Linked DNA regions of Homo sapiens: region 1 is linked to region 2. Evidence: fine-mapped expression QTL. A gene starts in region 2. The other region holds a variant in brackets. All regions are shown on one strand. Distances are between the middles of the regions.

Region 1 (5,388 bases), 650 kb before region 2:
AAGATAGTAAATCATTTATTATAACTATATTCCATAGGTTCAAAAAGTTATGTAGCGATATAGAAGATATAAAAAGACACAAATCAAACATGCAGAGGAAGCTACTATAATGTATGAAATTAAAAATTCACTAGATGGGATCAACAGCAGACTAGACATTGCAGAAAAGGTTAGTGAACTTGAAGACATAGTATTGGAACCTATATAAAATAAAAATTTTTAAAAAAAGAATATCAGTAAGCTGGAGAGAGAGAGAAAGGTGAAGACAGGAAGAATATTTGAAGAAATAATGGTAGAAATTTTTCCAAATTTGATGAAAATTATAAACCCATAAATCCAATTCAATGAAACTCAAGCACAAAAAAAAAGAAAAAAGCTACACAAAGGCATAGCATAATCAAATTGTTCACAACTTGTGATAAAGAGAAAATATTAAATTTGGCATCCAATAATAAATCACTGGTCAAGAAAAGAGAAAAAACAATTATTATACTAAGAAAATAAATAATATAGCAAATTTTATGTCAGAAACAAGGCAAGTGACAAGACAGTAGAACAACCTCTTTAAAATTATTAAAATAAAAAAGTCAACTTAGAATTCTATACCCAGTGAACGTATCTTTCAAAAATGAGGGTGAGGCCAGGCATGGTGGCTCACGCCTGTAATCCTAGCACTTTGGGAGGCCGAGGCAGGTGGATCACTTGAGGGCAGGAGTGTGAGACCAGCCTGGCCAACATGGTGAAACCTCATCTCTACTAAAAATATAAAAATTAGCTGGGCGTGGTAGTGGGCACCTGAAATCCCAACTACTCAGGAGGCTGAGGCAGGAGAATTGCTTCAACCCAGGAGACAGAGGTTGCAGTAAGCCGACACGGTGCCACTGCACTCCAGCCTGGGTGACAGAGTGAGATTCTGTCTCAAAAAATAAAAATAAAAAATAAAAAAATAAGGTAAAATAAAGACTTTTTCAGATGTATAAAAGCCGAAAGAATTCATCATCCATGAACCTATCCAATAAGAACTATTAAAGGAAATATTTCAAATAAAAGGGAAAAATACCAGATAGAATATAAATATAGACAAAGGTATAGAGCACTAGAAATTTTAACTACAGAGGTAAATATATAAACATCTTTAAAAGACAATAGACTCTTTAAATGAAAGCAGTAAGAATGTGGTTTATAACATATGTAAAAGTTAAATATGTGACAATAGCACAAAGGTCAGGAGGAGAGAAATGGAAAAGTACTATTATAAGTATTGTGAGCTATACATGAAACGGTATAGCATCACTTAAAAGTAGATGTGATGCTAAACATAAATACCACAAAGCTCAAAGAAACCATCAAAATAATAAAAGAAATAGTTATGTCTAATTAGTTACTTATGAGATGAAAATCAAATAAAAAAGAATTAAAATAATCTAAATGAAAACAGAAAACAGGAAAGGGAAAATAGAAGAGAAGCGACAAATAGAAAACAAATTACAAGATCATAGACTCAAACCTCATAATCACCTTAAATATGAATGTAAACATTAATACTCCATTAAAAAGCAGAGGCCTTCAGATTGGATTTTTTTTTAAAAAAAAGAAGCAATTATATGCTGCCCACAAGAAATACGCTTCAAATATGAAGACACAAACAGGTTAACAATTAAAATAGGGGTAAAGAAAAATCACATGTACAATAAACAAAAGAAAGCTGGAGTGTCTGACATAATATCAGTTAAAGCATATATCTGAATAAAGGATATTACCAAGGACAAAAAGAAGATCATTTCATAATAAAAAAGAAGTCACTTCATCAAAATAACCTAACAGTCCTAAACATTTATGCACCTAATATCAGAGCTTCAAAATACCTGAAGTAAAAACTGATAGAACTGAAAACAGTATAAATAGATAAAGGCCACAATTATAGTCAGATACTTTAATACTCCTTCTCAATAATTGATACAAGTAGATAGAAAGTTGTTATGAATAGAGAAGATGGAAATAGCACAATAACTAATTTGACCTTATTGACTTATAAAGAACACTCTACCTAACAGCAGCAGAATACACATTCTTCTCAAGTGCACACAGAACATTTATTAAGGTAGATCATACTCTGGGAATAAAGAAGCCTCAATAAACTTAAATCATTCAAATTATACAAAGTATGTTCTCTGACCACGATGGATTTAAATTAAAAATCAGCAATAGAAAGCTATCTAGAAAAACCTCAAATATTTGGAAACTAAATAATATACTTCTTTATAACCCATGGGTCAAAACCAAAATAAAAAAGGAAAATTATAAAATATTATGAATGAAAACAGCAACACAGCATATCAAAATTAATGGGAAATGACTAAAGAAGTTTAGGGAGAAATTTGTAGCATTAATTAAATATATATATTCCTTTCTGTAGAAAGTTGGAGACTCAGAGGTCTTTTTACATTTCAAACAGCCAGTCTCTTTTCTGTTCCAAGCTTGTGGTGATGTTGCTTATAGATCTCTCTTAAAACCTTTGTGGATTTTTACATATATGATTTCTATCAACTGCATGTACCAAAGCCACACCCATGATTCTTTTTAAGCCATATTCTGTATTTATGGGCTCTTGGAATGAGTCAAACATTTCTGGGATCATTTCTTGGGCTCTGATGGACCCCTTTTGTCCTGTGAGAAATCTACTAGATATCATTCTAATCCTTTTGGCAAGCTTAACAGAGGGTGTTTCAGCTGCACTCTTGGCTTGATCATGTCTAACTGGCCATGTCTTTCTGGCAGCACCCCAGATTTAGTCTTCAACTAGTGATTGTGTTAAAATACCCAATTTTGTTATAATTGATTTGGTGAGAAACAATTTTCTATTTTAAATTTGCAATTTCTTGGCTCTTTACATTCCCTCTAAATTCTGCATG[T/C]AAATTGACCAGTCCTTTTCTAAGCTCATTTCTTTCTTGTGGTATTTTATCAAATTCAGTTCAAAACAGCCAGTTGATATCTTCAACACTTCTCCTGATACCTCCTAACCAAACTTTGCAGGTTCATTAGATACATTTTCTTTATATGACAGACAATAGTTTTACCAAAATACTTGCCACTGCAAAATATGGATTGCTACTTTTCCGTTTTATTAAGGTTTCCACATCATTCCTCCACCTAGACCTAAATCAAATGCCATATATTTCAGTGTTTTTATGACAGTACCCCACCTCTTGGTATCAGTTTCTGTATCAGCCACCTTTTTTGAATGAAAGATACTGCAACATTTTAGTGGCACTTAGCAACTTAAGTTATTTCTTGACTGTGCATCTGCAGGTGGCTGGGCAGCCCTGCTTCAAGAAGCGGGTGTATATGTTAGTTTGGGTGACTCTGCCCCACATGACTTACTCTGGTATCCAGGGAATGTCATCCTCATGGCTGTATCAGAAGCACAAGAAAGCAAGCCCAACTGCATCAGTACAATTCAAGCCTCTGCTCACATTGTACCCTTAACGTCCCAGTGGCCAAAGCAAGTCACAGGACAAAGTTCAAGCTCGAGGGGTGAGAAAGTATATTTCACCCACTTTGAGGCCTAGACCAAAGGGATATATGGTATTATTACAGTGGAGTGAAGCTTTAGGGCCAACAATTTCATTAGTTGTAAGGAGAGGAGGGAAAAGAGAGTAGAAGGAAAGAAGTAGAAGAGGTTGTCTGGAGGGAGAGACTAGAGACAGAGAAGGGGAAGGAGAGAAAGGATATGAGGGAAAGGGAACAAGCTTTCTATTAACGCCTCTGTTCAATGCTAGCTCTTTTTCTTGTCCCCCCTTTACCTGCTGTATCTGATCCTGGAACCTCTTGGGTTGTGGTGAGATCATAGGCCTTTTTCTCTGCTTAAAAGCCTCTTCTATATGTTCTGCATTGCTTCTTGTTCAAACGATATGATATGCCAGGAGATTTCCAAAGTCTTTCCATATTCCACCCCTCCGTGCTATTTAACCAGGGAAGACCAGGAGGCAGTTACACCTGAACTGACTTATATAAGAGTGCCAGAATTGAAGGAGGCAAAGAAAATTACTGGAAGATAGGTAGATAAGGAGCAGATCATGAAGTACTTTGAAAAACATCTAATAAGAATTTATATTTTACTCTGTATGTAGGCAAGGCCATTGAAAGGATAAGACCACAGATTTATAGGACATTTGTATTTTAGAAAAATAGTCCTGAAGATATCTAATTAAACATGGCAGGATAAAACCAGAAATTTACCTTAGTTCCTTCCCAAAGCTCTACTGAAAGAAATGAAACTTCTATAATCACAGAAGATCAAAACAACTGGAGAGGCAATGATAGATACTACAAAAGATGGAAAGAAGTTCATCAAGTGGTTGCTGGCTTAAAAAAAAAAAAAAAAGGAAAGGGATTAAAGGGACAAAGAAGGAGAATCAACAAAATGAAAAAGGACCAGCACTACAGAGCCTGGAAAGGACGTTAAGGAAAGCAGCCAGGTACTTCTAGGAATAGGAATGGAGGCTGCAAACAAAAATGGGAGGATTGGTGGAAACTAGGAAGAGAGATCCCCATTCACCATCTCATTGAAAGCCAGGAAAACAACTCTCAAACAAACCAACCAACCAAACAAACAAACCAACAAAAAACCCAAGCATCTTGCACCCAGGAGAGAGAAGATCAACTCCCTGGAAAAAAAGAAAAGACAACTCCTATCCTGGAGACACTAGGCATGCAGAAGGCTACAGGGAGGCAACACACTAAAATAAAGGAGATTGAATAAAAACCTGTTTTCTAAACCCTGGCTTATATCTTCTAAGCATCAGTTTGAAAGGTTAGAGAAACCAAGACTATTTAGAGAACACAAAAACTCAAGAAAAAAAAAGATGCACTCAGAGTCTCAAATTTGGCAGAAGTCAAGAAAGAAAATTTAAGAATATCCTTGGAATGTGAGAGTGAGAAAGCCATTTGCACCTTAAAAATAAAAAGAAAGGAAAAGAAAGATAAAGAAACTGGGTTTTGGGGACAATATTTTAACCCTAAGGAATTTCTAATATGGCATGTCTATCACTGTGACTCACGGGCTGCAAAAAAAATGTGAGCAAGAAGACATTCCTGGAATCGTCCCATCATGTAACACAGATGACCACCCACTCTACATATGTGAAAAACAAGTCATAGGCAGGAATTCTAGTGAGCCAAACTTTTTTAAATTTAATCTTTAAACAACCTTGAAATTGATAGCCTAAAATTTAGGTCCTAAATTATCTAAAGATGCAGAAATATATAGATAAAAGACCAGCATGTTTGAGGTGACTTAATGACCTCTACTCTTAAAGATAAATCATAGAAAATGTTCAGCCTGGTTATTTAAACAGTTTTCTGATAACATTATTGAGACTACAATCT
Region 2 (5,388 bases):
CTTCTTTGTGTACATTTCAATGCCAAATTTAAAAAAAAATCTCTTGGCAAAACTGTGAAAAATGCATTTTCTCTCAATATAGAACATGTGCTATGTATTTCTTATATGATCTAAACTTTTTTTGGAAACTCATTTTTACTATGCTAAAGGGAACAAACCACAGGGCAGCAGATTCAAGAATGTCACCAGAAAGGTTCTTGATCTCAGAGACGGAGTGGAACAGAGCTTACCACCTGCCTTTTTTTCTCCTTAGAAGGGCGTTAAGGCCTCTGGGAACAGACCCCAATGACTGCTGCCCACCAAAGACCTACCAGATTACCCCCTCTAGGCTTCAAAAATGCTTAAAACTATGAGACTTGTAAAACTCTAGCCAGATTTTTTTGTAGAAATCAGGAGCTGCTATAGTTCATCATAGACACATATAGATATATCTGCTTACACATGCATGGAATATTTTGGAAGCATACATAAGAAAGTGTTAACATCTATGAGGGTGGACTACATAAGTGGGAATGTGGAGTGTCTGAGGGTCTTTCCTTCACACTCCTTTGCAACATTTGATTTTTTAAATTATATGTATGTGCTACTTTTCCAATAAAAACCTAACATAATAATTCACTTTATTTTCTAATATCTTTAATTTTAAAGGCCATTTACCAAATGTTAATTGCATTTACTATTAAATAGGGGAAAAATCAAGTTAATATTCTGTTGTCTCCCTCCTTTTTTGTCACAAAAAGAAACTTCAAAACAAAAGAGGCACCATTACTCAGCAATGACCCTTCTGAGAATATAAACCAGCATAGTACAATTCACAAGTGGCAAACTCAGTTGCAAGAATTTGTATATTCCTTATACTCCATTACTTTTGTTTTTTACAACATTATAGAGCCGTTTGCTCTTTATTGTCATATATTTTAAAGTCTCTTGCAGTGCCTGTTTTACACACACAGGACACCATGTAGTATCAATACAGTAGAATCCAAAATGTATGTGTTTCCTAATTGTGATGTTTTTTAAGTTTGAAAACAGTGTGCTTTCTGACCTGTGGGTTAAAAACAAAATAGTAATTTCCCTTTGTCCAAATTCACACCCAGAATAGAACACTCCTGTTACATAATCAAAAAGCCACAAAATAACAGAAACTACTACAAGCCATTTGTAATTACCACCCACTCTTCTTTATATATTATAGAAACCTCTCCACTGATTTTAAACTTCCATGTGTCAGTGTTGGGAAAAAGACTTTACTGGAGCCACATTCTGTGGTTAGTCTACCTAAGCTGGTGCTGGGAGCTTGCAACATGCGTGATGCACTGGTTACGCAGCTTAACCCTGAACAGAGCTTTTGAATATATTAGTGAACCCAATAAATTCAATAGTAAGTAAAAGTCCATCTTTCATTGTCATTGAGGGATGTGTGTGTGTGTATGTACACACACACATATATACTTACATATATACATACATACATATCGTTTTATACTGACTGCTCCACCAAAATCAATTTTAATCTGACATACATTTGATTGATTACTCACATGCATTTACACTGAGGCCCTTTTCCAGAGCCTGTGCGAGGGTTCTTTCCTAAATAACCTTACCCCAAAGTCATGCTCCCAAAAGAGGAAATCTCGAACAGAAGAAACAAGCCCCAAGTGGAAGGAAGATGGAAAGAGAAAGGGGAGGAAAGAGGTTTACAAATTCCTTGCCAAATGGATGGAGAGAAATTCTGTGAGGTGATTAGCGGGTCAGGAAGCGTTTTCCCTGGATGTGGTGGTAACCACAAGGACCAGTGATAATGCTTGGGGGATTGATTGCTTTCCGGTTGTGCTTTCTGCAGCGCAAAAACTCTGGGCTCTTGCATTGCTCTTTACTGTGATGCAGGGTCCACTTAAAACTCTGCCTCCCTACCGGGAAAGTTCACACATCTTGGGATTTCGGGATCATTTAAGTCTAGAGGGATTCTTTTTTTACACTTGAGAGTAAGCTGTGCATTTTCTTCATTGTATGGGAAAAGCTAACCCTTCATTGGAAAGCAATGCACAACCATCCGGTGGGTCTGCATTTATCCAGAGTTCTCCCTTCCTCCCTCCATCAACGGTTTAGTGAAGCTTGCAGAGAAAATGAGGGAAAGCATCCATCAGAACGCAAAGACGCAGAGCGGAACTTTTCCTCTGCCGTCAGTGGGGAGAAAAAGTCACTTGTGCGTCTCGTGGCTGACAGCTGAGTCTGGGAACCTCCGGATAAGGAAGGAAGGTTTGGCGTTGAAGGAGGTGGGAGAAAACAATGCTGAGCCCGGATGCCTCCGGACACCGCACATCCTGCCCGGGTCCCTGACCCACCCATCACCCACAGCCACGCTCCCGGTGCGGCGCGGCTTTGCTTACCTTGATGATGCTGCTGCGCCGGGGGGTCGCCCGTGCTGCCTCCAGGAGGCCCGCCTCGCTGTCCGCTGGGGTCCCCGCGGCGCCTGGCAGTGCGACCCCGCTGCGACGGTCCCTCATCCGGCCCCCAGAGGCCGCCGTCACGCAGTCCCCGGCGGCATCCGGGCCCACTCGGGGGTCGTCTTCGCCCCCCGCCGCGTCGGGCGGCGCCGGATCCTCCCTGCCGGCCGCGCCCTCGGCCATGGCCTGGAGCGTTTAGGGCTCCCCGGGGGAAAGCGGGACGCCCGGCAGCGGAGTCCAGCCGCTAGGCACCGGTGCGCTCCTGCACCGGGAGGCGGCCCCGCCAGACTTTGTTTCACCGCCCAGCGGCGGCAGTGGCGGCGGCGGCGGCGGCGGCGGCAACTTTCTGGAGAGGGGACATCGCTCGGGCAGAGACGTCCTCGGGCTTCGGTCTAGGAGGCTAGCAGTCCGGCGGGGGACGGTGGCGGGAGTGGGGAGGCGATGTGAGCGGGAGGCAGAAGGAGAGGCGAAAAAGAGAGGGAGGTATCCGAAATGTGATGCAAACGCCGGCCCTGCGCCAGACAAAAGGCACCGGGCGCCCAGCCAGGCGGCCTCTGGAGCCCGGACGCCGGCGGCCCGATAGGGGCCAGAGCCGGGCGACTGCGGCCGGGCGCACCCGCCACCTGCCCGCGGACTGCGGCGCAGCGGTCCCAGGAAGTGCGGCGGCGGCGGCGGCCTCCACTCAGCTCTGTTGTGACAGGGAGGGAGACTTGTTTTGACAGCCCTTGGGGATTGGCAGGCGTCTGGGCCTCTTAGGAGCCTCGCCTCGCCGAGGGGGCTCGGCCCGACCAATCCTCACTGCGGAGGGGTGTGCCCGAGCGCGAAGAATGGAATGTGTTCTGCAACTGGGAGCCGGCCCAGCGGGGCTAATGTACTCGAGCCAGGGTGTACCCGCGCGCGCGCGTGTGCAAACCCGGAGGCGCTCCGTGTATATTTTAGGAAGTTTAGATTTGCGAAATGAGCCTGAGATGCAACAAAAATCCAGGTTGGGTGAAGGAGAGGGGAGAAAGAAACCTTCTTCTGCCAAACAAAGCAATTTGGAGGAAAGTGGGTATTGAGTATGAATGTCTAAGCGTTTGGGGTGACGGGGTGAAGCTTTGCGTGGTCACAGGTTAATTGCAGGCTCTCAGGCCAATTCTTAGAAGTCAAGTCCATGCAGAGATAAACTAGGGTTTACTGGGATCTTGGGGTTCCATAATTTGCTTCAGGTTCCAGGAAAGGATTCTAAGGTCATTCTGCAGTGTGAGTAAATATAACAAGGAAAGGGAGTCAGTGAAAGAGATGAGGGTGAAAGGAAACTGAACCAACTAAATCCCTCCGAAGACTGACTCTTAAAAAGCACAGATATAATCCAAGTCAGATAAATGCAGGTGGGGAGTTTAGTCTCTATCCTAAAACATTCCTATTTGACAATGGTTCAGCCTCCTTTCTCTATATAATCCTATATAAAAACATATTTTGCTCATTTCCAGTAAGCTAGCAACCAAGAAGGGAGAGATCTTTGGATGATGAGTTAAGTCACTGAAATTATCCACAGAATGCTCAGATGCAAACCATGGTCCTAAGGCTCCCTGGTAAGACAAAAGACTTGGCATTTTAATTTTAAACTCCTTTGATATTAGAATCTATATTAAACCTCACTTATAACATTACATTTTATCTTATTAATAATTTAATAATTTGAGATTTTACTTGTTCCTTAGTCTGGCTAACAGCATGAGAAATTATTCAGCATTTTAGACCAACAATTTGGTTTGAATCTCATAATTTTAGAGATATATGGGGATTTAGGGATCAACTAGGACATCATTTTTGTTTTACGGTTGAGACAAAGGCCCAGGGAGTCTTGTCTACTAGTTAGTGCAGGAGCCAAAATTAGAATCAGCCACCCAACTCCTCCGATAATCTCTTCACTACTTTATCTGTCTCCTCTGGGCTACAACCAGCCAGAACTGGCAGGGGCACTTGGGAGGTTTCAGATTTGACATTTATCAACTACTAGGGAATACTGAGAAGGCTTGACTTTGCCTTTTCTTTAAACATAAATGCAGCCTAGTAATGAATGTACTGTAGAGAGTAGCAGTGACCTCTGGTTTTAGAACCAACACCACCCTCTAGTGAGATTCTGAGAACTGCATCCATAACAGCAAAGGCTTCTTTTTCCCCCTCATCTTTAAAAGACAGGAGGGGTAACCCAACAAAAGTTTCCTTTTCAACAGGTATGCCTTTACAACGCACAGACTAGAGGAAGAAAATAAAGTGTACCCAGACTTAAAACAACCATACATGTCTTCCATCTCCTTTAGTTCAGGGAATTCCTGTCTATGCTATATAGGAAATATTTTTAATTGCTATCCTCAGAAATATATCTTATTTTAGGCTATCATTTTTTTCTTTGATATTCAACTATTATTACATTTGACTTCTGTCATTTACAGTTGTCAGTGCTTCATTTTTCTTTGTTACTCTAATAAAAGTCCCATTCTTCGGTTGTCCTCTGAAAAATGTAAAACTGCCTTTATCTCACTCATTATCTTGTTATAGGATATTAATGTCATTTATAAGTTCCTCATCCTACAGATTTGTGTACCATTATGATAATAATTTATTTTTACAAATTTTAAAATTAGCATCACTTTATTAACAAACATTCAAGGTCAGTGATTTAAAAAAAAACAGAGGCCAGAAAGTACAGCATATAACTTGCAAAATGTTGTATCTTTCAACTAGACAATGTCTAGTTGGACTCTTTTCTCTTCCTTGGCATCCTTCCCTCTCACCCTCATGTGAAAGTGCACACACACACACACACACACCCCTCTGATTCCTTTGCTCTGAGCCTCTATCCGTAAAGATTGTTGTCTAAATTACTCTGCTTTGATAAACTAGTTGGACCCTAATCTAGCAAGTCGTTTATATTGTTGTGTTCCAGCATAAGCTC

Alleles and levels. Alleles are on the strand shown, and positions count from the first base shown. SD is a standard deviation of normalised expression in the study named.
For the expression in prefrontal cortex of the gene that starts at base 3,137 in region 2, T is the low allele of the variant in region 1 and C is the other (moderate effect, 0.46 SD a copy in GTEx).

Evidence for each region.
Region 1: its variant is fine-mapped to the expression of PLCL1 in prefrontal cortex (GTEx, PIP above 0.99).

Annotation. Positions count from the first base shown.
Region 1 is chr2:198,456,316-198,461,703 of GRCh38, reverse strand. No RefSeq gene overlaps it. Among named protein-coding and RNA genes, the nearest start is that of LINC01923, 84 kb to the right of the region's middle. The variant T/C (reference allele first, on the strand shown) is at 2,913.
Region 2 is chr2:197,802,342-197,807,729 of GRCh38, reverse strand. PLCL1 (phospholipase C like 1 (inactive)) reads right to left here and starts at 3,137. Exons shown (of 6, transcript NM_006226.4): 1 at 2,391-3,137. The coding sequence starts at 2,630. LOC105373828 (a long non-coding RNA gene) reads left to right here and starts at 3,184. Exons shown (of 4, transcript XR_001739850.3): 1 at 3,184-4,021. RefSeq lists a silencer at 2,961-3,090.